Linked DNA regions of Homo sapiens: region 2 is linked to region 1. The links come from fine-mapping of genetic effects on gene expression. Tissue or cell type: whole blood. Region 1 holds a variant in brackets; the other region holds the start of a gene. All regions are shown on one strand. Distances are from middle to middle.

Region 1 (2,599 bases):
GTAGCTTTGAGCAAGGTATTTAACCTCTTAGATGCAGTTTCCCTATCTGTCAAATGGGGTTACTAATAGCACCTACTCTGTGGAGATCTGACAATTAAATGGGATCTGGTATAAAGCCCTAAGAATGGGTTCCTGGCCACATGGTGTGTATGGGAGGGTTTGCTCCAACTACCACCAATTCCTGTTTGCGTCCTTTCCCCAACCCCAGCAAAGTACTGGGCAACATGGTGCCAAAGGAAGATCACCAATGTCCAAGGACCTGAAATTAAGGTTCGACTCTCCAGACACACTAGGGGCAGGTTGCCCTCTTGGTAACAAGGATCTTACCCACCTCACAGGGTTGTTATAGTGGTCAAGAAAGATGGCCCATGCTATTTCCGGAGACTGCCAGCCAGCCTGGCTGCAGCAGTGGCCTGAGTGAAGCAGGCGGAGACAGTGGTGCGGAGAGCCCACATCTAGATGGGTGCCTGCCGCTCAGCAGCTCTCTTGTTGCCATGCAGGCTGACAGTTGCCAATTTTTTTTATTTCTTTTTCCCAAGAAAAGTGAGAAATCTGGATTTTTATGAGAAACCTCCTGATTTCTATGGATGGCAACTGACGCAAAGATTTTTGTGTTTGCTATTTAAACACAGTGCCACCTAAACAAAACCTTGAAGTAGGGGTGATATGCTGCATAGGCCATCAGGGTGCATGTTCTGAAGTCTTCCCTCTTCTCTAGGCCCCTTCCTGCCTTCTTACCTCTCTGCCCCCACCCTCTGCCCACCCCCGGCATGTCTGGCACCCCGTAGGGGATTTGGTCCGGGGAGTTTCTTCATGCTCCACTGAGATCAAGGGGATACAGAGCCCAAAAAGGATGACTTGTTATGAACGAAAATGACAGAGGCAAGCAGTTTAGAAAGTACCAGGTTTTATTATCTTTTTATCAAAAAAAATCAGTAACAGACAACAGTGTGAGAGGTGCCTACAGAGGAGGTGCTCACTCCAACACAGCCCAAGGGGAAGGGCACTGGGGGCAGAAGA[G/C]GACCCAGCCAGCTGGGACCCTGGGTTGCAGTGGTGACGGGAGCTAATGGCCACTGGTGCAGCAAGGGAGGGTGGTTCCCCTCACCGCAGCCACTGGGGTCAGGAGGAGACACGACCTGCCCAGGCTAAGCCACCAGGCCTCCCCTCTCAGGAGAGGGAGGGTCCCAGACAACAGGCCCCAGCTGGGGCCTCATCAGCCCTCCCCCATTCCCCCCCCCCTACCCAGGGAGACAAGGGTCGTCCCAGCACAGCTGAGGCTGTGACTCGTTAAGCCAGTTTAGTTCTCTAGAATAGTGCTGTCCAACAGATGGACATGCTCTCGCTGTCAGTACAGTAGCCATGAACTACATACAGTGACGCCTCTAGAAACGTGGTTAGTGCAACTGAGGAAGGAATTTTTAATCTTATGTGATTTTAATTGGCTTAACTTTAAACAGCCGCATGTGGTTACTGTATTGGATAGCACAGCCCTAGAGCCTGAAGAAAGCAAACCAAAGAACACCAGCTGGGTCCCAAACAGAAGGCAGAAAGGGTAGAACCATCCACCTCAACTATTCCAGCCCCATCAGAAGGCACCAGGAACAGGGCAAGAGAAAAAGGCAAAAACCCACCCAGCCACATGAAAATTCACTCACTCAACCACCCAGCAACATCAAACTGGAAACACCACACTATTTCCTGAAAAAAATATATTTATCTATTTTTCTAGAACCAAGGAAGAATAATAATATATTATAAGAACACAGACACAAATATCCCACCATCCCCTTCATTATATTTTGGGATCTGCTAAAAAAAAACTATGTTTCGGCAAAAGCTATTTTATAAGAGGAAGCAGCTTCAGAAAGGGCCAAGGCCATGAGGAGCGGGGTTTAAAGTATAAAAAAAAAACTGGGGAAGGGGTTTAATGAAAGAGAACAAAGAAAGAAGAGGGGAAGGGAGGCCCTATCTAAAGCTATAAATAGTAAAAAAAAAAAAAAAAAAAAAAAATTAATAAAAATCATCTCTCCGGCTCTTCTCTCATTTTCAAGAAACAAACAAAAACAAAAACAAAAACCATTAAATACAAACTTAGCAGGTGCTGTGGAAATGTGCGAGAGAATGAAGACACCTCGGCACCTCCACACTCTTGCCCAGGCAGAGATATACACTCTGCACAAAGGAATGAACAGTTAAAAAAACGAACAAACACTAAAAATAGATTTACAAATATTCTATAAATCCATTTCAGCATAAACTCTCAGCTCTTTTCCCCATCCTCCCCCCCAAATAAAAAAGGTTGATTTCCAAAAGTCACTTGAAAGAGCCTAGAATGGCCCCAGGTATATACCACAGAGATTCCCGTAGTGTGATCACAAGTACCCATTTACAGAAACATCTCAAGGTGCAGGTGGTTCTAGTTCCTTCCCCCATTTCCTGGCAGAGAGACCGGCTGTGAAAGGAAGGGAGGAAGGCCACTGGGGGAGGACCTCCAGCCAGGACTCCACACAACATCCGTTAGCCCCCTGGCTTCAGAGGAGCTCTGGATGAGGCATGGTCAGTATGGGCTTGAGGGCGGACCTAGATTCTTAACTGGAAG
Region 2 (2,599 bases), 23 kb after region 1:
ATTGCCCCCCTCCTCCTAAGCCGGCTGCGGGCATGGATAGAGCTTCTGCTGGCCCAGGGACAGCTATGACGGAGGCCAGTGGACAGTGAGAAGGAAAGGTTTCCCTGGGCTGATTGAGGCCTTCTCTCCCCCCTACCCCCTTCACCTCACTCAAGGTGGATGCTTCAATTTTCTTATCTGCAATTGAGAAAAAATGAACACACTTCTTGCAGAAAGCAGAGGCTCAGCTCCTGGCTAAGTGTTGAGTCTAAACCATTCCTCTCCTCTGTCCTCGAAAAGAGCAGAGTCCCCAACTTTCTAGAAACCCTAACGCAGTGTCCCCTCTTGCCCCATTCCCTCAGACCCTTGGTGCAGTATTGGGAAGAGATTCAGAAGGGCAGGACTTTGCCCTAAGTCACAAGTCAATGACAGAGCTGGGGCCAGAACTGAGGTTAGGGCTCAGTTCTCCTTGGTGTGTGAAAGAGGGCCTCGCACAACCCTAAAACCCTCCCCCTTCCGAGTACACGCAGCCCCCCGACCCCCAGGGCCATCTCGGATCCTAAAGCTGTCTGCTCTGGGCGCCCCGAGAGCGAGGAGGGGATTCAGCGCTCCAAGCCTGCCCCAGGGTCACCAGGGAAGGGACGAGGGTGTGGGAGTTGAAGAGTTGACACCGGCTTAGTCACTAACGAGCCCGTAGCCCGCGGCGGGGCTGAGGCCCGGGGAGGCGGGAAGAGCAACAGGCGAGGGGCGCACGGCGCGTGAAGCCATCCCGGAGGCTGGCCCGTGACCCCGGAGCAAAGTTTCCAACAAAGTTTCCCGGGCCTCGGTGTCCGGTTGGGGGTAGCGTACCCCCGATCTGCCCCCCCCCATCCCACGCTCCGACGAACAAAGGAGGCACCGGCCTGCGCCCCCGCTTCGCCCCCAGCCCGGGAACCTCCAAGCACCCACCGACTCGGCGACTCCGCCTACGAAGAACAGCAGCAGCGCGAACAGACGGGCGGGGGCCATGGCACCGCGGACTGGAGAAGGCGCGCAGGCTGCGGCGAGTGGCCCCGGGCGGGCGCGCCACCCATCTTATAGGCGGCCTACCGGCCCCGCCCCGGCCCGCCCCCGCCCCGCCGCCCGCACCCCGCCCGGAATTCCCCAGTGGAAGCGAGGCCTGCGGGGCACTGCGCCCGCCCGCGGAGTTGGAAACCCCAAGGGACCCGCCCTGCCCGAGCCCGCCGGCTCCTACTCAACCCCTAGTCCTACCCTCCGGGAGCTCCAACTCCCTTTATTTATTTGACCCACTGCCAGGCAGGTCCCCAGAGATCACTGCGGCTAACCCCATTTTATAGTTGGGGAAACTAAGGCCCAGGGACGGGAAGGACTTCCCTAGGGTGTTGAGTTTAGACCAGCCTTCATACCGGGTGTGCTCCCCTCTGAAGACACAGAACTTCCCAAATGGGATGTGAACCGTGTTAAGACAGGGGACAGCAAACTATTCTGTAAAGGGCTAAATATTTTAGGTTTTGCGGGCCATACGATCCCTGTGGCAACTATTCAAACTCGAGCGTCGTAGCTCAAAAGCAGCCATAAATACTAAAGGAATGAGGGCAGCTAGGTCCTAATAAAACATTATTTATAGACACCGACATTTGAATTTAATATAATTTTCATGTGTCACGAAATATTATTATTCTTTTGACTTTATTCCCAACCATTTAAACATGCAAAAATCGGCTGGGCTCTATGGCTCACGCCTGTAATCCCAGCACTTTGGGAGGCCGAGGAATAGGAGGATCCCTTGAGCCCAGGAATTGGAGACCAGCCTGGGCAACCATAATGAGACCCCCATCTCTACAAAAAGTTTTTAAAGAAATTAACCAGGCATTGTGGTGCACCCCTGTGGCCCAGCTACTCTGGAGGCTGAGGTGGGAGGACTGCTTGAGCCAGAGAGGTGAAAGTTGCAGTGAGCCATGATCGCTCACTGCACTCCAGCCTGGGTGACCGAGTGAGACCCTGTCTCAAAAATAAATAAATAAATAAATAAATAAATAAATAAATAAATAAATGACATTTTATAATAAAAATGCAGGCCGGATGCAGTGAGTCATGCCTGTAATCCCAGCACTTTGGGAGGCTGAGGCGGCGGATCACTTGAGCTCAGGAGTTTGAGACCAGCCTGGCCAACATGCTGAAACCCCGTCTCTACAAAATACAAAAATTATCCAGGCATGGTTGCCTGCGCCTGTAATCCCAACTGCTCTGGAGGCTGAGGCAGGAGAATCGTTTGAACCCGAGGGGCGGAGGTTGCAGTGAACTGAGATCTCCCCACTGCACTCCAGCCTGGGCAACAGAGCAAAACTCCGTCTCAAAAAAATAAAAAATAAAAATGCAAAAACCATTCTTAGCAGTGGGCTGAACAAAAATAGGCGGTGGGCCTCAGCCACTCTGAGACCACTCTGACGCTGGTCTCAGAGTGGCTGACGTCTGTTCTAAGGGCTTCATCTACCAGATTTTGAACTTTTTCAAAAGTTTGATCTCTCTGAGAACTGGTCTGCAAGTTTATTTCCATTCTTAGGGTAAGCTTCCACCCTTTATAAGAGAAAGTTGTGTGTCCTCCTTACCCTTCATCCTC

The links. PIP is the estimated chance that this variant, and not a neighbour inherited with it, causes the effect.
Region 2: it holds the start of SDC4, and the variant in region 1 is fine-mapped to the expression of SDC4 in whole blood (INTERVAL, PIP above 0.99). The same link has a PIP of 0.9 or more in testis.

The regions. Positions count from the first base shown.
Region 1 is chr20:45,324,398-45,326,996 of GRCh38, forward strand. SDC4 (syndecan 4) reads right to left here. Exons shown (of 5, transcript NM_002999.4): 5 at 891-2,599. Among named protein-coding and RNA genes, the nearest start is that of MATN4, 17 kb to the left of the region's middle. The variant G/C (reference allele first, on the strand shown) is at 1,021.
Region 2 is chr20:45,347,398-45,349,996 of GRCh38, forward strand. It overlaps SDC4 (syndecan 4), which reads right to left and starts at 1,027. Exons shown (of 5, transcript NM_002999.4): 1 at 928-1,027. The coding sequence starts at 987.